5 linked regions of the Homo sapiens genome follow. The protein of the gene in region 2 interacts with the protein of the main gene of each other region in a pairwise test. Each region holds a gene or a part of one and is shown on either strand. Other genes may lie near its edges.

Region 1 (4,276 bases), on a different chromosome or scaffold from region 2:
TAAAATCTGCTGTTCATCTATTTCCCAAATCATCAGGCTATCCATACAGCTTTGGTGTCTAAATAGTCAAGCAATCATTTATGGGGGAAAGAGAATGTGTGTGACTATTAAGAAATCATGATTTCTGGCACTCTTCCTCAGGTAACCTATAGTTCTCTCTCTGCAGGTTTAAAGACCATTGTGGGGGCCCTGATCCAGTCGGTAAAGAAGCTTTCTGATGTGATGATCCTGACTGTGTTCTGTCTGAGCGTGTTTGCTCTCATTGGGCTGCAGCTGTTCATGGGCAATCTGAGGAATAAATGTTTGCAGTGGCCCCCAAGCGATTCTGCTTTTGAAACCAACACCACTTCCTACTTTAATGGCACAATGGATTCAAATGGGACATTTGTTAATGTAACAATGAGCACATTTAACTGGAAGGATTACATTGGAGATGACAGTAAGAAGTATTACATTATGTTAACCTTAGTGTTGCTGAATGAATTTTCAACTATAAATAGTTGAGACTGTGGGTGTACAGCCACCTTTGTAAATAACTGAAATAGTCCAACTCTGATTTATTACTAATACTAATGTGAATAGGATTAATATGAAATAAAATGGGTTTTTTTTTGTATTAACAGGTCACTTTTATGTTTTGGATGGGCAAAAAGACCCTTTACTCTGTGGAAATGGCTCAGATGCAGGGTAAGAAACATAATATATTTTTTAAGATATAGAACTCTTTGCGAAAAAAAAAAGTAGGTAGGAAAACAACTACATGGTTATATGTGTAGCCTTACCATGTATGCAATAAAGAGCAGTGCTGCTCCCCTAGGAAGTGCCTTGTCTGCCTTACCGGATTGCCACTGGTCCTAAACTCACAGCAATTAAAAATTATCCCTTTGTGAAGACCTTTCCCCAAAATTTCACAGTTAAGATGTTCTTAAATTGATGCTCCAATGTGTGAAGGCCCAGAGTCTGTCTTTGCTGTACATCTATCAGAGCTGTTAGGAAACACAGGAACACAAGATGGGCCCCTTTTTATTGGTGTACATATGTATCAATGGGATGAGTTTTGTCGTGACTGGAAAAGACCCAGACTATAATGTGGTCTTCAGGGTGGAAGCACACTTGGGGAAGTGCTTTGAAATATTTAAGTATTCTTGAAGGAGCATGTATTTCTGTATACAAAGAAGCCAAGGGTGCATGTGTGCCAAAGGCATGTCCAAGTATCAGTTGACATAATGAATAGTTCTTTTAGGCCACACGTTACAACAAAAGATGCCATAATATCTTAGTCATGCTGTTATTCTCTAACCCTTAAATATTTTCCTAAGAGTATTGTAAGTTAATTTTAAATCAAAATAGGGAATTTTTTAAGAGCTGAGAGATAGCAATAGTAAGTGACTCTTAGGACACGGAACTTAAATATATTTTGAGTCATCCTTTAAAAAGGGAAACTGGTGTAGCCATAAAAATCTAAGAGAGTTAATGAAAATGTATACTAGTCATATAAATAGAGCTTTGGGGAATTTTTTTTCCTGACAGTTTTCCTAGCCTTATTATGAATGTAGGGGGTAAGAGCATAGGTTGTAGAGTTCATGTATACCAGGGTTCAAATCCTAACTTCACCACTTGTAAGCTCTTTGACCTTGGAAAAGTGTCCTAAGCTCTCTGTACCTTAGTTTACTCATCGTTAAAATGGAGAGAGTAATATTCTGTCCCTTTAATAGTTGTGATGATTAATGATTTAATACACATAAAGTATTTGAACTATCACATGGACAATTGTAAGAATTTATTGTATGTACCAGCCTAAGCAACAAAGCAAGACCCTACCTCTACAAAACAAAAAAAAAAAAAAAAAAAAAAAAAGAAAGAAAGAAAAAAAAGAAAAGAAAAGAAGAAGAAAAAAAGAAAAACTTAGCCAGGCATTGTGATGCACACGTGTAGTCCTAACTTCTCAGGGGGCTAAAGTAGAAGGATTGCTTGAGCCTAGGAATTCCAAGCCACAGTGAGCTATGATCATGCCACTGCACTCCAGCCTAGGTGATAGGCTGTCTCTGAAAAATGGCTGGGAGCGGTGGCTCACACCTGTAATCCCAGCACTTTGGGAAGCAGAGGCAGGGGGATTACTTGAGGCCAGGAGATCTAGACCAGCCTGGCCAACATGGCGAAACCTTGTCTCTACTACAAAATGCAAAAATTAGCTGGGTGTGGTGGGGCACACCTGTATCTCAGCTACTCTGGAGGCTGAGGCACAATAATCTCTTAAACGTGAAAGATGGAGGTAGCAGTGAGCTGAGATGGCACCACTACACTCCAGCCTGGATGACAAAGCGAGACCCTGTCCCCCCAAAAAATTTTTTTAATAAATTTAAAAAAAAAGCACACTCTAAAAAAAGAAAAGAATTTATTGCCTATTAACTATTATTTATTATGATGATGATTAACATAAAAGCCCAGATAAAATTTTGGATAAATTTGGTTAATACATACTTTATTCCTATTAAACCATAATAATCTATTCCCCTTAATGAATTCCTATTATGGCTTAAGTAATTTACATCAACAGTCCCCAGCCTTTTTGGCACCAGGGACTGTTTTGTGGAAGACAATTTTTCCACCGACCAAGGGTGGTGGTGGGAAATGATTTCAGGATGATTCAAGCACGTTACATTTATTGTGTACATTATTTATATTATTAGCATACTGTAATATATAATGAAATAATTGTACAAGTCACCATAATGTAGAATCAGTGGGAGCCTGATCTCAAATGATTCACCTGCCTCGGCCTCCCAAAGTGCTGGGGATTACAGGCATGAGCCACTGCGCCTGGCCATTGGTGATGAGATTTTTGTTTTTGTTTTTGTTTTTTTTTGAGACGGAGTTTAGCTCTGTCGCCCAGGCTGGAGTGCAGTGGCGCGATCTCGGCTCACTGCAAGTTCCGCCTCCCGGGTTCAAGCTATTCTCCTGCCTCAGCCTCCCGAGTAGCTGGGACCACAGGCGCCCGCCACCACGCCCGGCTAATTTTGTATTCTTAATAGATACCAGGTTTCACCATGTTAGCCAGGATGGTCTCAATCTCCTGACCTCGTGATCCGCCCGCCTCGGCCTCCCAAAGTGCTGGGATTACAGGAGTGAGCCAGGTGATGAGTTTTAAATACAAAACCATTTTGTATTTAAGCGGCACATTCCATTAAAGAAATAAATGATTTGTATTTTATTAAAATTAAAAGCTGCTGTTTTACAAAGATATTCTTAAGAGAATGAAAAGACAAACCAGCAACTGGAAGACAATATTTGCAAAGCACATATCTGATTTAAAAAAAAAAAAAAAAAGACTGGGGCTAGGTGAAGTAGCTCATTCCTGTAATCCAGCACTTTGGGAAGCTGAGAGGGGAAGATCATTTGAGCCCAAGAGTTTGAGACTGGCCTGGGCAGCATAGGGAGACACTGTTTCTCCAAAAAATAAAAATAAAAAAATTAGCCAGGCATGGTGTAGTGTATCTGTGGTACCAGCTACTCAGGAGGCTGAGGCAGAAGGATTACTTGAGCCTGGGAGGTCGAGGCTGCAGTGAGCCATGATCAGACCACTGCACTATAGCCTGGGCAACAGAATTATACCCTGTCTCAAAAGAAAACAAAACAAAACAAAACAACAAACCAGTGTCCAGAATATCTAAAGAACTCTTAAAACTCAACAATAAGAAAACAAATGACCCAATTTAAAACTGGCAAAAGATCTGAACAGATACCCCACACGAGTATATAGTACAGGTGGTTATTAAGGAGGTAAAAAGGCACTCGACATCATTTGTCATTAGGGAATTGCAAACTAAAACAACAAGGAGTTACCACTGCACATCTGTTAGAATGACTGAAAAATGTATCTGGCAATACCAACTTCTGATGAGGATGCAGAATAACAGGAACTCTTGCTTATTGCTGGTGGGAATGCAAAACTAGACAACCGCCTTGGAAGACAGTTTGGCGGTTTCTTACAAAATAAACATAGTCTTACCATATGATCCAACAACTGCACTTCTAGGTATTTAGCTGATCAATTTGAAAACTTATGTCTTCACAAAAAACCTGCATGTGAATATTTATAGCAGCTGTATTCATAATGACCCCAAACTGGAAGTAACCAAGATGCCCTTCAATGACCCCAAACTGGAAGCAACCAAGATGTCCTTCAATAGTTGTATAGATAAATAAATTGTTATGCCCATACAATAAAATATTACTGAGTGATTAAAAAGAAATGAGCTATCAAGATACAAACAAA
Region 2 (4,276 bases):
CCAGTCACCCTCCCGTTCACTTTCAGACCTAACCCAAAGTTGGCTTTGTGTCTTGTGCGTGGCAGAACTAGACTGACTGAGTCTATGTCTCTAGCACATCTTTCCCTCCTGCCTCAGTTTCCTCACCTGACCACTTGGGTTCACATAATTCCTGCCCCAGCAACATCATTGGACTGTTTTGAGGACCAGTTCTAGAAGCGAAATTGGAAGTAATGAGACTAATGTGTGCTGACCATTAACTGTGCCAAGCACTGCAGTAAGTACTTATCTTGTATAAACTCCTTTAATCTTCATAACAGTCCTATTTTAGAGATTAAAAAACAAAACAAACAAACCAACAAAAACTGAGGCACTGAACTGTGAAGTTACCTGCTTAGCAGCTACTGAGTTGTTAAGTAGGAGCCTGAACTTAAGCATCTAACTCTAGAGTTCTTAGTCTAATCATGACCCTGGACCATTTCCCAGTGCTGTTGAGGTTATGAAAATGGCTGTGCCTTGGTAAAATATTGCAGTGAGTTTCCTCACTGGGAGTTGTTCTGTGGTCTCCTTAGAGTGGGAGTACTGAGGACGAGGCAAGGAATAGAAACTGCGTGTCTGGGCTGGTTATGCCTTATCTCCCTGGCTCTTTATAACAACTGTCCTTGTGAGGATGGCTGTGAAAAGCAGAAATTTTCTTGTCATTCTACTTTCTAGATAAGGATGCCTCCTCAGAGAAGTTGAGTGACTTATGCAAGGTCACACAGCTCAGGATGACAGAACTTGGTCAGGATCTCTGCCTGCCTCGAGTTCAGGGCACTGTCTGCTGAGGTGGGGAGTGTGGTGCGGAAAGCACCAGGAGTGTGATCTAGGAGCTGGAAAGACGGGCTTTAAATGTTAGGCCTGGTGCGTTTCAGCTCCATGTGAGGCTTTGGACGAGATGGAGGAGTAAAGTAGCTGGGTGCTGAGTGACGCTCAGGTGGGCCAAGAGAGCTCCAATGGCCAAGCTGGGCTCCTGCATGGCTCTGAGATGCATGGGGTAGAGTCATAGGCAGGGAGTTATTAAACAAAAGTGAATGACGTCAAGCTTGGAGTGGAAAGGGTGGCGGCGCTGCTGATAGTACCAAGTAGTAATCACACATGGCTTGGCTTTTCTGAGCTTGTTTCCTCATCTGCCAAACAGGGGCAGCTGTCCCTCCAACGCTGGCTGTGCACATAGACACACAGGGCTGGCAAGAAGGGAACGGATGGATGAGTGTTCCCACCTCCACGGCCTTTAGAAACGGACTCCTGGTAGCCATAAAGGGAAACTGAAGAAACGGAGTGGGGCTTACGTGGCTGTGTTGGGGCCAGGTGCTGGAAAATGTTCTTTCCTCAGCCCTTCCCGCATTCTAGGCCACCTGCCCAGACTGAATTTCTTTGAACTGTTCTCCCTGCAGGAGAGAGAGCTGTTGGCTCGTCCCTGAGGAGCTCTTTATTAAACCTGGGATGGAGGGGTGATAGGTGCTGGGATAACAAAATCTGCTCCTCCCTGAGCAGTCTCCGTGCCTTACCCCTGACCACCCTCTTTGGCACACCACCCTGCAAGAGGGCTTGAGCTGCCCCACCTTTGTACATCTCTGGGCCTGCAAAATGGGGGTTGGAATTTGTAGATAGAGTCTGCGTGAGGCAAAATGAGTCCAAGTTCCCAAAGGGGCCAGAATGCAGCCCCTGAATACCAAGAGGCTGGAAGGAGGGAACTTTTAAGGAAGCCAAGAAAGGCTTCCTGGAGGAGGAGACTGCTGAACTAGGCCTGAAAGATGGTAACTAATAGCATTCCCCCAGAGTTTACCATTTAAAAACAGGTGGTATTGTTCCTATATTATAGAGGACATAGGCTTGGAGAGGTGAAGTGACTCCCCCAAAGTCACAGAGCTCCTCAGGGTTGGAGCTGGAACTCAAACTGAGGCCTTCTAAGTCCCGAGCCTCATCCACAGTGGCTGGGACTTGGCTCTTTGGAGACACAGATGGAGCTTGCGGGATGGAAGAGGGAAAAGCTCCTGGGGCTTTAGTTCTCAGCTCAAAGAACCTTCAAAGTGGAGGAAGGAGCTGGAAGCTAGAGAGCCAGGCCCAAGGAAGCCCAGCCAGGGGAAGTCGGGTGGGATTCCTGGCTGTGGGCCTGGGTCACGTAGGCCAGCTGGCCCCTGGGCCTCAGTTTCCTGTTGCTCCCTAGTGTCTGGGGGCAGAGGCAGAGATTCCGGTCTCTGGCCTGGCCTTTACTCCCAGAGTCACAACAGTAACCATAGCGCCGATGAACGCTGTCTGGGCACTTGCTGTGGACCGGGCATCGTGCTGAGATTGTCCACACATCGCCCCTCGTTCCTCTATTCTATAAAATGGGGCAACACTATGAAGTACCTGAAATAGTCCTATCTCATCGAGGCACAGACGGGTTACGTAACTGGCCCAAGGGTGTAGAACTGCTGGGGTGTGAATGCGGGTGACCAGCTATGGAACTTGTACTGTCTCAAGTACTGGCTGGTGACTTAGGTAGGTCCTTCCCAGGCCTTCATTTCCCTGTCTTGAGATGACATCTTAAGGCTACTCCACCTCGCTTCCTCCTCTAGGAAGTTCTGTGCTTCTCGCGGAAAGGCTGGGTAGACAGGTGGACCAGTTTTGTGCTCACTGACCTCGACTTTGTTCAGGCTTCTTTGGACTCTTTTGTTATCCCAGCACCCATCACCCCTCCATCCCAGGTTTAATAAAGAGTGGCCACAGGGAGGTCTCCCATGGCTGAGAGTTCATTAGCTGGGCAAGGCCAGGCTGCAGGAGTGCTGAGTCTTGCTGGGAAACAGCCTCATAAATAATTAAAGCTCGGCCACAGCTCCCTGCCTGTGCTGTAGCCCGCATCTGGCCCTCAGTGTGCGGCCTGGACGTGTGCTCCTGACACTGGACCCAGCCTCATCTCCTTCGTGGATGGAGCCATCTGACGACAGTGTGGCTCCTTTCTGAACCTCCCCGTCTTCACCTGACCGGGCAACTCCACCATCCAGAGTCCTCCTGGGGCTCCCAACTATCCAGAGAATAAAGTCAGTGTAGACTCCTCTGTATTTGGCCCTCTGTGACCTGCTCCTGTTACCCACTTCCCTGCAACCTCTTCCCGCCTCTTCCTGTGAGCCTGTGACACCAAATTAGCTTCTGCCACACTCTCACCCTCCTGCTGCTTCTCACCTCCAGGCCTTTGTGTGTGCTATTCCTCCTGCCGGACACCCTGCTCCCTCACTGGCTGGATTCATTTTATCATCCTAAGAGATCCGGTGCAGGTGTCACCTCCTCTAGGAAGCCTTCCCTGACACCCCATTGCCTCCAGGCTGAGATACAGGATTTGAGTTACTTAGAGACCCATGTCAAAGTCACAACTCAGACACACCTGGTTTTTACATCCCAGCTGTCGCCTCCTGGATGAATGGTTGTGAGGATGATACTAGGCCCTCCTTTTCGGAGATTAAATGTGAGGATTAAATGAGGTCACATGCCTGGTAAGCAGGAGGTGTTCAGTGAATGGCAGTGGGTGAGGTTGTTCTTGGTGGGAGGGGTTTCACTGAGGTCTCTAGGTACCTGACGTCTGGTCTTTGCAGGCCAACCCGGACCCCTTGCTTCCCCTGCTCCTGTCTGCTTAGCCAGATGTCGAGGTTCCTGCAGCTGGTGCTCGCCTCAGCCAGGGAGTTGCCCAGCCACCGTAGAGGTGACAGAAAGCTGCTTGGAAAGGAGCTGGGGGAAGAAATGAGTCAAACAGGCCTAGGGCCCTAGGAGGGGCAGCGGATGGCTTCCCTCTGGCTGTGTGCTGGTCCTAGAGGCTGGCTTCTGTCCTGTCTGCTCCTTTCCTCTTGGCTGTGCCTGGGGAGGAGAGGAGGGCCTGCATCCCCCATGGCACTGCCCAGCAGGCCCTAGCAGGCCTTGGGAGTGTTTGCTGAAGACTTTCCCTTGGGCCCTCCCAGGTCAGCATTCCCCGGTGTGAGTCCCTTGGGCCTCAGGGATGGTTGGCTTCTTCCTCCCCAGTTGTCTGCTGGTGGCCGACTTGACAACTTTCCTCCTTGGGGAAATGCTGGTAGCAGGTGAAGCCAGAGAGAGAGAGACCCCCAGGGGGCAGTGAGGAGCGAGAGCCCAGAGGGCGGATGGAACAGGCACGCCCTTGAAGGAAGTAAATGCATGCATGCTCTCCCAGCACCAGGTTAGTGGTCTACTCCCAGGCCCATGCTGTCCCAGGGGGCCAGCACTGGGGTCTGTGGGAGGGTGTGGGGTTGTGTCCTTAGGGTTGTGG
Region 3 (4,276 bases), about 110 Mb from region 2:
TGACCCCGATGGGAGACTGATGGCTGATACTGCTCCATCTCTTGCCCACCACTTCCAATGATACCCTGTCACTGAGTTCCTTGAGGTTCTAGACTTAGAAGAATCTATTTTAGGAAAACGTAGCTTCCATCCACCCTACCATGATAACAGGAAGGACCCAGCTTCAATCCTCTACTCTGCTGTGTCCTTAGGGCTCCCTCCTCCAGGGTCTGAGATGTTCCTTCTCCCTTGTTGGGAGAAGCGTGGAGCTGGGTCCTGGAGGAAGGGGCCATGTGAGGGGGCTACCTCCTGCCCTCCACTGCCTCTGGTGAGAACCATCGGCAAAGAAGTTTGGATCCTAAAATATATAATGATCTGGAGAGATCCTCTTAGATGAAAGAAGTTCCTGTGTCCTTCCCTCCTTTCCTTCTGTCTCCCTCTCCTGTGGACATTTTTACCAAGATGGCTTCTACGATTCATAGAATTCCATGGCAGGGAAAGACATTTTGTTTCTGGCAGTTCTGCTGTGGGGACTTCTTCAGACATACACAAGGAAGGCCCCCAGTGACACAGGGCTGTTTCCACTTGTAGAGGATAAACTGGTTCCAAAGGAAACGTCAGGCAGCTAGTTTAGAACTGAACTGCCCTCCAAACCTCCATGTGAGATAAGATATGAATGTTAAAGAGAGAGAGGTGCCCTGATATAAACCGCCTGGGAATCTAAGGGTAGAGCTATTGGTCAGTAATTTTGCTTCTGGGTTTAAAACATTTTTAATTAGCTTTGGCTTCAGGTTGGAATTTGATCTCAAGTTCTTAGTTTCTTAATTGGATCACATTAGGAACCCCCAGATGCCACAGTCATCTCACCTATATGATGTTAGGTTAGAGCTGATGAAGACTAAGGTGGTCTCTCAGTTTCTGACATCCAGTGGGCCAACTTCCAGACTCCAAAGTGCTATCCACAGGAATTACCAACGGTATACCACCGCTACTGCAGGCAGAGCGGGCCCAAACTGACTTTGCTCTACTAGCTAAGTCACAGGGGAGTCTGTGTGTGTGTGTGCCAGAGTGAGCCTTGCAAAATACTGTGCAAAGATGAGATGCTGTTAAGGGAAGAGGGTGCCAGGGAGTAGGAGACCAAATATTGGTGGGATTTGGGGAGGGCGATGTGTGTCAGGAATCAGCTCCACAGCATCCTGGCCTGCAGCAGCATCTAGTGTTCAGACCCTCTGGAAGTCAGACCTTCTGAAAGGCAATGAAGTGCGCTCTGGCACCGCCACTGTGCCATGGAGTGCCTCACTCGGAAGCTGAGCTGGCAGGGGCTAGGAAGTGACTGATGACCTGAGGGCACACGTGTGCAGATCACACAGATGGGCCATCTCTTGCCTACCTTGGAGCCTGTGTGAGAGCCTCCTTCCTTCCCTACAGCATCTAGATCAGTCACACCTCGGCTGAATTCCAGGACATCATTCCCTGGAAGTGGGACCTCCACCGCATCGATGTCAGTCTCCTCTGCAGTGGCCGTGGAGGCCCTCTCGGCTCCAGTGAGCTGGCGGCCTGCAGGAACAACAGGGGAGGGAGGGAAGAGAATGAAAACACCGAGAACAAAGTCCTCCTTTCCTAATACTTTAGCTTTCAGGCATGTTGAGCCTAGGGATGCCACTGGCTTTGTAACATTTTCACACATCTTTTCACTCAAGTACGTTAAAGTGCATTTCCAGCCCAGTAAGATGTTCTCATCTTAGTATCTTTTCAAAGTCCAGAAAAAAAGGCAATACTTCCTCAAGCCTGGATGTAAAAGTTTTGCCAGGTTCACAGGAATATATTGACAAGGTACACTGGAAGAAGGGGATGCTGATCATCTCCATGTCATCGCAGCTCAGGAACGGAAGCAGTCAAGGGAAAGGGCCCTGGCCCGGGGGTCCAGAAATGAGGAGGTTGGGCCTCCAATAAACTGCTGGACAAGAAGCAAATCCCCTCACTCTCTGGGCCATGTTTCTTTAACTACAGAATTAGAAGCTCAGTTAGATGGACAGGTAGGGTTCCATGACTGAGGAATAAGGCAGGGAGATGTGAGGCTGCATTTTAACACAGTATCAATCTCCCAGCCCTCAGAGCCTGATCCTCTCACCAACAGCAGAAGCCAGGAAGACGCCTGCAGGAAGTGGCACGGGGAGGAGGAGAGAGATGGGGTGGCTGCTTTTCCATGCTTCCTTATCTAATTTTTCTACTTCCCACATTTCTTCCTTTCCACTGAAGACAATGGCCATGTCTTTACTTAATATTTAACCACAGGCACAGCATACTGCTTAATACCAATGTATGAAAGCCCTGCTATTTCCTACTTATCTTCCTTCCTTGATCCTATTTCTGGGATTCTGTAAAAACATCTGACAACTCCTGGGCATTTCATAGGAAATATTTTCATTTTCTATATTTGCAATTAGGTTAATTACTGCCGTCTTTAAATAAGATTTCTCATGAGTTTTCAGAGACCACGCACCAATTATAAAATGGAACAGGTGGATGTAAAGCAGGAGACACAGAGCTGATGCCCCAGTGCTGAAGCTAGCCCAGGCAACCAGGCCTTGGCCATTTGAGTGCTTGCCTTGTAGAACAAATTGTTCTAAGAAGTTTTCCTATGCAAACCTACACAAGTCATCAAGGGAAACAAGCCTGGCATTTAGAAAGTAAACAGTGGGCTTGGTTTTCTTCCTGGCTACTCCAGGAGCTGAGGAGACAGTCCTGTGGAGGGCTGCAAAGGCGTTTAACAGAAAAGATGGTTCTGACTGCAGCTAGTGGGGGCAGGGAAGGGGAAGCTCTTCTGCCCCTTGGTCAGCCAGTAGGCGGGGAGCACAGGGAGCAGCCTGCTTTCTACCACAGCCTGCACCTGGAAGTGACCGTCTTGATGGCTGGGTGCTTAGCCTGAGAGATGGAGGGTCGGTAGGTGGGTGGTGCTGGGAACTAAGCGTTTGGTTCTCCATGCCTGTACAGGAAAAAGCAGGGTGAAATTTCTATCAGTGATCAGGAGAAGCTGGGCTACTGCAGTGTTCTGTGCACTTAGCACATGATATTGGATGTGCCTGGCCATCAGTCTTCCCTTACAGACTTGAGGCCAGGCTGTGTCTCATTCATGTTTCCTAAAAATGTTTCTCTGGCACAGAGAAAGTGTTCCATAAATACTGACAAAGTAAGTAATGTAGTGACAGGGTAGCAAAACAGGAGAACAGGCTGCAGGAGAAGGCTGCTTATCTACTTCCCATCCCTGGAGATCCTAATAACAAGAACTAAGAAGCCCCAGACACAGAGGGTTTGGACAGGGCCTCGCCAGAAGCCCAGGTGGAATCAGAAAATTTGTCAGGTTTGGCCGGGCGCGGGGGCAGGGGCAGAGAGGCACAGAGGCAGGAAGTCCACGGCATGTCAGGCAATGCAAGTGGTCCCGTAGGGAGGGACCTGACCAGGACGAGTCAGCATTTTATCTTGAGGGACTGAAAGCAAGTAATACCAAAACATTTTCATCCTTCAAAATTTCACTCTAGATATAGTATGGAGGATAGATCCAGCAGCAATGAGAGAAAGTGATACTCTAGGTGGAAAATATGAGGGCTTGAGTGAAGACAATGGCAATAACATGGAGAAGAGATGGATTCGAAGGATCGTCAGGGGGCAGAAAGCACAGGGTTTGCTTGTCTGTGGTGGGGGCGGGGGTGGGGATATGTGCAGGATGAGTCTTAAAATATCTGATTCAGGTGACTGAATGGAGAATGGCATCCTATAGGAAAAATCCAGGAGAAGCAGGATTGCAGGTAAGAAGATGAGTTCAGTTTTAAACCTGTTGACATTGTAAGAGTCTGTGTAACAGTCAAGTAGGGATACCTATTAGGCTGTTGGGTATGTTATGGACTGAATGTTGGTGTTCATATGTCGAAGCCTTAGCTCCCAATGTAATAGCACTTGGAGATGAGCTTTTGGGAGGTAATTAGATCATGAGAATGCAGTCCTCATGATGGGATTCATGCCCTTATAAGAAGCGATGTAGGAGATCCCTCTCTTTCCACCCTGTGAGGACACAGCAAAAAGGCAGCTGTTTGCGAACCAGAAGAGAGTTCTCACCAGGAACCAAATTGGCTGGCACCTTAATCTTGGACTTCTCAGCCTCCAAAACTGTCAGAAATAAATGTTGTTTAAGCCATCCAATCTACTGCATTTTATTATGGCAGGCTGTGTAGATTACTATAGTGCATGAATGGAAAGTTCAGGAAAAAGGCCTGGCCTAAAGATAAACTTTAGTTGAAAT
Region 4 (4,276 bases), on a different chromosome or scaffold from region 2:
TGCCTGTCACATAGCAGGCACCCAACATTATGAAACGAAGTGAAAGAATACTTGTCCCACAGACAGTTTTCTTTACCCGGCTTATAGTGTCTTCATCAGCTCCATTCACTCTCAGCCAGTCGGTAAGTTCAGAATCTTCAGTATTTGTGCCAGAAGAATTTAGATGAAATACAGGCAATTCAGGAATTTCTAGAACAGAATTTTGGGAAGATATTCTTAATTTCACCTAACAGAGGTCATCTGAGACCCTCACAATCAACAGACATTTATTGATACTTTAAAAGATTTTGCTCTATCAGAGAACAGTTCATAGAAACAATTGAGATTGGCAGTATAGATGATAATATGAATAAAACTCAGAGAAGTGAATTTACTAGTAAATAAGGAGCAAAAGCAATAATGAAATGACACTCCTACGTTACACTTTCATATCAATTTTATGGTTTCTTAGAATAAACTCTGTGCACCAAAATTAGACTTTGTGTTTTTCATGCAATAAAGATGAATACAATTAGCAGAGAACTATATAATTATCATAATCTCTTTTTCCACTATGAAAGAGCCACATATCTAAACAAATAACTATGAATTCTGTTTTCCTCTAAATGGGCTAAATAACATTCTCCCCAGCTATGCCTTTTTACTACTACATCTTTATTCTATTTAAGCCTCTTCAAATTATAAGGAAAAAGGCTAGAATACACAGAATATAAATGCAAAATGACAAAAAATAGTATTATTTATTCTAGTAAGCTCATTGTGAAATCTTTAAAAATAAAGACTAAAAACAGAGAGCCCTGTTTACCTCAGTAATACATAATCTCAGGAAAAGATGATTATGAATAATCTATTTTTACTGCACTTATAAGAAATGAGTTTGCTACAGTTAAAAACTGGATTTTTTTTTTTTAAAGGAATTCCTGCTTGCAGTCATGGTAGAAGTGAGAAATGCTGACTTAGCCACAAATAAAACTTCCTGTTGGCTTTCTTGGCTTTTTGTGGCAGCCTGGCTGAACAGTATTACTATAAAACTTTCTGCTATTCACCTATGGGTTGGGACTTAAGCTTCAGGTGTTTAATTTCTTGGTCTTTTTCTTCAATAGCTCGATGAAGGAGTGCTTGTAATTCTTTCTCTTTCCGAACCAATTCTTCCAGTAATCTGCAGAAGAAAAATATATTGTTTGACAGGAGGTGACACAGGGTGACCTTCTTTTTTTTATTTTTATTTTTTTAGATACAAGGTCTCTCTCTGTTGCCTAGGCTGAGTGTAGTGGCCCAATTATAGCTCACTGCATCCTTAAACTCTTGGACTCAAGCGATCCTCCCATCTCAGTTTTCCAAGCAGCTGGGAATACAGACATGCACCACCATGCCTGGCTAATTTTTTTTTTTTTTTTTTTTGTAGAGACAGAGTCTTGCTATGTTGTCCAAGCTGGTCTCTGAACTCCTGGCCTCCAGTGGTCTTTCCACCTCAGCCTCTCAAAGCTCTGGGATTATAGGTGTGTGCATGTGCCACTGTGCCAGGCCTAGGATGACCTTCTAGACATGAGCTATAATAAGCACATACACCCCTAATTTTATTGAAATACAGATACTGGTCCAGTGCCCCGGGGGTGAGTTCTGAGACTGTATTTATAATGAGCTCCCAGATGACACTGATGTTGCAGGTTCACAGACCCTCAGGTCCAGAAGCTAAGCTTTGGAAGACTGTGCTTGCCGACAAGAATTCAAAACCTCCACCACAGATTGTCTGCCAAAATCTTCAGAGATGTGTCCTGATATTTCTTGTTATGACCATAAATGTCAAAGATATAAATATGGGATACAGATATTAACAGGCCTATATTTTACATGTATGGACCCCCATTAAAAAAAGTTGGCAAATGTGCATAATTTCATAATCAATGCAAATCAGAAAAGTAATCACTTTTTGTAAACTATGAAAATTTGAGAAACAGTCATAGGTGAGGTCGCCTAGAATATCTGGCATATAACAAATTCTCAGTAAATGTTCACGGTTGTTGCTACAATTGTGATTGTTACTATTATTCCTCTTCCTTCTAAGGGGGCGGGGGTGAAGTGGGTAAAAGGATAGCTGTGTTCCTGGTACATTCAGTTCCTAGTTGGCATCTGATGCAGTCTCCAAAGAAACAAGGAGAAACTGTGATATTCATACCAAAGTTCTTACCCATAGAAGGTTCACTATGCAACTGAGAGCCAACTGGTAACCTACTCACCATTTCCAATAGAATTTCTCAAAGAAAACATTCCAAGTTATGAAAAGAGGTGCTCTAATTTTTTAGAAAAGTATCTTAATGTAAGTTGGATTCAGAAATAATAATTTAAAATATATCGTTATTAAGATTATCAGGATAAATCGTTGCATAAACTACAGCTCTTAACAAACTCTATTTGTTTCATTTTCTGAGTATTGATAGATTTAACTCAAGAGTTTGTTTCTGCTTCACTTGACATAATCTGAAGGCAGCATCGTGCAACTGACAGATCTGGGCTTGTGTCCTGGTTCAACCCTGCACTTCCTGTGTTAACCTTAGATAAATTACCTAATGCCTCCAGGCTTCAGTTTTCAAATCATTTGTAAAAAAGAAAACTAAAGCTTCCAGAAAAGATTATTGTGAGCATTAAATGAGACAGCATAGGTACAGTGCCAAGTCAGTGTCTGGTCTTTAATAAGGGATGTTCTGTTCCTTGCTACCTCAGTCCCTGGAAAAGAGCCTTTCCAGGACTCAGTGGGAAGGAAACCTTCCCAGACCCCCAGGCTCGACCCCATTCCCACAGGACATAAAGATGAGATCCTCAGAGAGAAGGGATCACAGCAGAGTAGGTAGCAGAGGTGGGACAAAAGTAAAACACAATAAGAGGTAGACAGAGAAGGTGGGTGGAGGAAAATAAGTTAACAAAGACAGCTGCAGGGTAAGTGTGGTGCACAATGAGGTGGATGAAGCAGCATGAACTGAAAGCTAGAAGAGGGAGCACAGGGTCTTGGAGGGAGGCTTCTTATCTCTTTCAAAACAAATATTATCCAAAGAAATGGGCAGGAAGCTCTGTGTGAATGTTTAAGTTGGCAGTTTTTTGATCTGGTATGTATTTTTGTCCTACTTGCTAATTTATACGTATAAGACAGTGATGGTATCTTCTTACTGTTTTCTCAAGGAACACAGTGATGTTTTCTAGAGTTTAACCTATGTTTGTCTAGACTATGTAATTTCTTTTTATCTTTTGTTAAAGTGAATGAAATATGGCCTGAGAAGGACTCCGTACTTGCATATTTGAGTCCTCGTGGACAAACTATAACTTAACAGGTAGACAAGATTGAAAACCTAACTTAGGAGTATGCGTCTATAACAATAGCTGAGTCTTGGCTAATCCCAGGAGCCATACTTCAACCACTCATACACTGCTGAGTGTTCAAATAAGGTGAACGCCAACCCATAACAAATCCAGCTCTTTCTGCACACTTCTGATTTCTGTACGTCACTTTACTTTTATTTTCTATAAATTTGTTCTGGCCACGAGGCATCCCTGGAATCTCTCTGAATCTGCTGTGATTCTAGAGGCCACCTGATTCACAAACTATTTTTTTCTTTTTCAATTAAACTCCATTAAATTTAATTTGTCTGAAGCTTTCTTTTAACACCTTAAACACCAGAACTTCAACACTGGAAGCAGAGTATTGACAGCCCACCTCATTTGCTCCGAATCCAGCTCTTAGAAGTATTTATCTTAAGAACAATCCAGTACATCAATTTTATTTTTATTTTGTGTTTATTTAGCAGGGCAATATTTTGAAATCAAGGCAACTGTCTGCCTTTCTGTTCCAAAAAAGTATGGCAGGATCTGCCATGAGGTCAATTTTTAACCTTGGATGGGCAGGGGTGATGAGGTGGATTGGTGGGTAATTCCAGAACTGTAGGATGGGGAAATTAAATAAACAGGCAGCTCCTCTTGAGACAGGTTTTTGTTTTTGTTTTTGAGATAGGGTCTTGCTCTGTCACCCAGGCTGGAGTGCAATGGTGCAATCATGGCTCACTGTAGCCTCAACCTCTTGGGCTCAGGTGATCCTCCAAGCAGGATAAACCTGATTTCCCTTCATCAGTGATCATCCTAAATATTCTAAGCTTACAATTTTTAATATGAGAGCTACAACCTTTCCTGAAAACACACTAACATTTCCTCTAGATTCATTTTGCGGTAGGTATGCCTTTATATTTCAGGTAATATTCAACTGAAAATTAGAAGGACCAATATGGACAGG
Region 5 (4,276 bases), on a different chromosome or scaffold from region 2:
CAGGGCCTCTGGGCGGAGGTGGGTCGGGGGGCCCCCAAATGGGCTTGCCCCCCCCTCCCCCAGCCCTGCGGCCCCGCCTCGTGTTCCACACCCAGCTGGCCCATGGCAGTCCCACTGGCCGCATCGAGGGCTTCACCAACGTCAAGGAGCTGTATGGCAAGATCGCCGAGGCCTTCCGCCTGCCAACTGCCGAGGTATCCACTGGGGAGCCGGGCACCAGGGTCCCTGATGGTGGACCAGAGGTCTGGGCCTGCATCCTGTTCATGAGCTGGGGCTCAGATGCTGAAGCTGCAGATGCTGAGCCTGGGCCCCACTCAGTGGTGGGGGCCAATGGCCTGGGCTGGATGCTGAGTCCCCATGAGGCACTGGGAGGCTTGTGCCCCTGTGAATTGTGGGGAACTGGAGGCCAGGGCTGGATGCTGAGTTCCCATCAGGCACTGGGAGACCTGTGCCCCAGTGGATTGTGGGAGCTGATGGCCAGGGCTGCATGCTGACATCCCATCAGGCATTAGGAGGGGTGTACCCCCAGTAGATTGTGCAAGACTAGGGGTGGATGCTGAGTTCCCAACAGGCACTGAGAGACCTGAGCTCCAATGGACTGTGGGAGGCCAGGGCTGGATGGATTGATTGGATGGATGGATTGAGAGGCCTGCATCCCAGTCGATTGTGCAAAACTGACGACCAGGGCTGGACGCTGAGTTCCCATCAGGCGTTGGGAGGCCTGCACCCCAGTAGATTGTGGGGAGCTGATGGCCACAGTTAAATGCTGAGTTCCCATCAGACACTGAGAGGCCTGCACCTCTACAGACTGTGGGAGCTGATGGCCAGGGCTGGATGCTGAGTTCCTGTCAGGCATTGGGAGGCCAGTGCCCCATGAGATGGTGGAGGCTAGAGGCCAGATACGAGATGCACTTCTCCGTGATGCCTTGGAGAAACTCAACGCTGTGGGAGGCAGGCTTGCCTGGTGCCAAGCACTGTGGGGATAGATGGGAGGGGGTCAAGGAGGGCAATAGTGGGTTTGAGCAAGAAGTAGACGCAGGGGTCTCCCTAAGTGGGATGAGTTTCTGTGTCCTCCACAAGCATTTCCTGAGCACTCACTGTGTGCCAGGCTCCGTTCCCTGAAAGCAGCAATGAATTTTTTTTTTTTTTTTTTTTTTTTTTTTGAGATGGAGTCTTGCTCTGTCACCAGGCTGGAGTGCAGTGGCACGATCTTGGCTCTCTGCAACCTCCACCTCCTGGGTTCAAACCATTTTCCTGCCTCAGCCTCCCGAGTAGCTGGGATTACAGGCGCCCGCCACCAGACCCAGCTAATTTTTGTATTTTTAGTAGAGACAGGATTTCACCATGTTGGCCAGGTTGGTCTCGATCTCCTGACCTCGTGTTCTGCCCACCTCGGCCTCCCAAAGTGCTGGGATTACAGGCGTGAGCCACCGCACCTGGCACAGCAATGAATTTTTGCTAGGACCGAAATCCTAGCTGGGTACAGTGGTGCACACCTATAGTCCCAGCTACTTGGGAGGTTGAGATGGGGGGATCACTGGAGCTCAGGAGTTCCAGGCCAGCCTGGGCAACATAATGAGGCTCCCATCTCTAAAAAAAATTATTTTAACTATGTGGGTGTGGTGGCACGTGTCTGTGGTCCCAGCTACTCGGGAGACTGAGACAGGAGGATCACTTGAGCCCAGGAGTTGGAGACCAGCCTGTGCAACATAGTGAGACCCCATATCTCCACAAAAAATACAAAAATTAGCCAGGCATGGTGGCGAGCACCTGTAGTTCCAGCTACTTGGGAGGCTGAGGTGGGAGGATTGCCGGAATCTGGGAGGTTGTGGCTGCAGTGACTATGATGGCACCACTGCACTCCAGCCTGGGTGACAGAGCAAGACCCTGTCTCAAAAAGAGAAAGGAAAACTAAATCCTAGTCCTAGCAGAGCTGACACGCTAATGTGGGCCCTGCTGTGGCCCTGGCTCAGGCTCAGTGGGTGATGAGTTACTGGGATGGAATCCCCCTAGTCCTCTCCCAGCTCTCTCCCTTCGCCCTCCAGTGGTGATTAGAAAAGGGGGAGGGAGGGGGAAGAGGTTTCAGCGTCTCCCACCCCTGCAGGTGATGTTCTGCACCCTGAACACCCACAAAGTGGACATGGACAAGCTCCTGGGGGGCCAGATCGGGCTGGAGGACTTCATCTTCGCCCACGTGAAGGGGCAGCGCAAGGAGGTGGAGGTGTTCAAGTCGGAGGATGCACTCGGGCTCACCATCACGGACAACGGGGCTGGCTACGCCTTCATCAAGGTGCCTGGGGAGACGGGGCACCCCGGAGGCCTGGGAGTGAGGGTGGGCCATGGGACCCCGGAAACCAGGGCAGAGCCCCAAGGGCTGATGACTCCCCGCCCCCGCAGCGCATCAAGGAGGGCAGCGTGATCGACCACATCCACCTCATCAGCGTGGGCGACATGATCGAGGCCATTAACGGGCAGAGCCTGCTGGGCTGCCGGCACTACGAGGTGGCCCGGCTGCTCAAGGAGCTGCCCCGAGGCCGTACCTTCACGCTGAAGCTCACGGAGCCTCGCAAGGCCTTCGGTGAGGAGCCGCCCCCTGGACCTCCCCAGTGGCGCTGCTCGCATGGGCGCAGGCGGTGGTGCCGGGAGCGGCCAGCAGGTGGCGCCCAAGCCTGGCCTGCCGAAAGGGAAGGGGTTGCAGAAAGGGAAGGGGTTGCAGCTCCTCCCGACCCCAGACGGGGTGCTGGCCCTTGGCCCAGCCTGGGAGAAGGGCGGGGGCGAGGAGGAAGTTGCCCTCACACCTAGCTTCCAGGGGCCATTAGCCCAGCCAAGCGCCCTCAGCCCTGGCCAGCCCCCTATCCCCAACAGGCCAGGCTTGACTGCTCAGTGCCAGCCCCCCCACTTTTCCATCTGGCTTCACTAACTCTCAGGAATGGGCCCCAGGCCCCTGAGGTGGGGGTGGGGGACTAAATCACTTCCCTGGGCAGGTAGGGCTGGTCTGTGGCCCAGCAGCCATACCCCCTTGGCCAAGAGGAGACGGACTCAGGCAGCTGGAGACTCAGGCTGGGGTACACCTGCTTCCTGTCCCCCAGCCCCTGGGAGCAGAAGTGGCCCCTCCAGTCTCCCCTCCAGCATTTCCTATTCCTGGCCCCCAGCTGTTCCCCCTGCTCTGCCCCACATCCATGCCAGGCCTGAGTCAGGATTCCTGCCCTCCTGGGATCACCCCGGCCCCAGCCCCCAGAAACTTGCAGAAGCCTGGAGAAGTTTGGGGTGGTGGTGAAAGCCAGGAAGGACAAGTTCCTGCCCAGAACGTGCTAAAACCAAGCTTCCCCCACACTCACTCCTCTCCTGCCTCCCACAGACATGATCAGCCAGCGTTCAGCGGGTGGCCGCCCTGGCTCTGGCCCACAACTGGGCACTGGCCGAGGGACCCTGCGGCTCCGATCCCGGGGCCCCGCCACGGTGGAGGATCTGGTGAGTGCTCCAGCCGGACCCTATCTCCGGCATCCCTTCCCTTTCTTTTTTTTTTTTTTGAGACAGAGTCTCACTCTTGTCACCCAGGCTGGAGTGCAGTGGTGCAATCTCGGCTCACTGCAACCTCTGCCTCCCAGGTTCAAGCGATACTCCTGCCTCAGCCTCCCAAGTAGCTGGGATTACAGGTGCCCACCACCATGCCCAGCTGATTTTTGTATTTTTAGTAGAGATGGGGTTTCACCATGTTGGCCAGGCCAGGAGTTGGTCTCGAACTCCTGACATCAGGTGATCCAGCCTCCTTGGCCTCCCAAAGTGCTGGGATTATAGGCATGAGCCACCGCGCCCAGCCCTCCCTTCCTTTTCATAACCGGCAGCATTACCTGTTAGCTGAGGGGACTCTGGGCAGACAGCCTGGATTCTAGTCCACTTCTGCCACTTCCCAGCTCCCAGGGACCTTCCTTGGGCACATGGGCCGCAGTTTGCCCATCAGTAAAATGGGGATGAGCTGAACACCGATACCACCTTCTCAGGGTTGTCCTGAGGTCTAAATACGAATATATGTAAAGTGGTGACAATGGCAGTCCGTCCAATTACTATGTATATTCACATTGTTATGATGTCGCTGTCACCCCTCCCTGGCCCCCAGCCCTCTGCCTTTGAAGAGAAGGCCATTGAGAAGGTGGATGACCTGCTGGAGAGTTACATGGGTATCAGGGACACGGAGCTGGGTGAGTGAGGGCTGCCTGGGGGAGGGGGCATCTAGGTCTGCTGGGGGCCGAATCCACCCTGAGCCCCTTGGTCCCTG

What was found.
Region 1: the proteins of LRP8 (region 2) and SCN3A interact in a two-hybrid assay, tested with the Homo sapiens proteins (one study listed by BioGRID).
Region 3: the proteins of LRP8 (region 2) and NOS1AP interact in a two-hybrid assay, tested with the Homo sapiens proteins (one study listed by BioGRID).
Region 4: the proteins of LRP8 (region 2) and MAP3K5 interact in binary tests that used the Homo sapiens proteins (3 or more experiments, as listed by UniProt).
Region 5: the proteins of LRP8 (region 2) and GIPC1 interact in a two-hybrid assay, tested with the Homo sapiens proteins (one study listed by BioGRID).

The regions. Positions count from the first base shown.
Region 1 is NC_000002.12:165,158,719-165,162,994, reverse strand, and holds part of SCN3A (sodium channel protein type 3 subunit alpha), read left to right. Parts: intron 1-166; coding exon 167-439; intron 440-623; coding exon 624-687; intron 688-4,276. UniProt on the Homo sapiens protein: Pore-forming subunit of Nav1.3, a voltage-gated sodium (Nav) channel that directly mediates the depolarizing phase of action potentials in excitable membranes.
Region 2 is NC_000001.11:53,321,379-53,325,654, reverse strand, and holds part of LRP8 (low-density lipoprotein receptor-related protein 8 isoform 1 precursor), read left to right. Parts: intron 1-4,276. UniProt on the Homo sapiens protein: Cell surface receptor for Reelin (RELN) and apolipoprotein E (apoE)-containing ligands. LRP8 participates in transmitting the extracellular Reelin signal to intracellular signaling processes, by binding to DAB1 on its cytoplasmic tail.
Region 3 is NC_000001.11:162,352,447-162,356,722, reverse strand, and holds part of NOS1AP (carboxyl-terminal PDZ ligand of neuronal nitric oxide synthase protein), read right to left. Parts: intron 1,537-4,276; coding exon 1,370-1,536; intron 1-1,369. UniProt on the Homo sapiens protein: Adapter protein involved in neuronal nitric-oxide (NO) synthesis regulation via its association with nNOS/NOS1. The complex formed with NOS1 and synapsins is necessary for specific NO and synapsin functions at a presynaptic level.
Region 4 is NC_000006.12:136,561,457-136,565,732, forward strand, and holds part of MAP3K5 (mitogen-activated protein kinase kinase kinase 5), read right to left. Parts: intron 1,160-4,276; coding exon 1,047-1,159; intron 190-1,046; coding exon 77-189; intron 1-76. UniProt on the Homo sapiens protein: Serine/threonine kinase which acts as an essential component of the MAP kinase signal transduction pathway. Plays an important role in the cascades of cellular responses evoked by changes in the environment.
Region 5 is NC_000019.10:14,478,607-14,482,882, reverse strand, and holds part of GIPC1 (PDZ domain-containing protein GIPC1), read left to right. Parts: coding exon 1-194; intron 195-2,104; coding exon 2,105-2,290; intron 2,291-2,397; coding exon 2,398-2,578; intron 2,579-3,358; coding exon 3,359-3,471; intron 3,472-4,117; coding exon 4,118-4,199; intron 4,200-4,276. UniProt on the Homo sapiens protein: May be involved in G protein-linked signaling.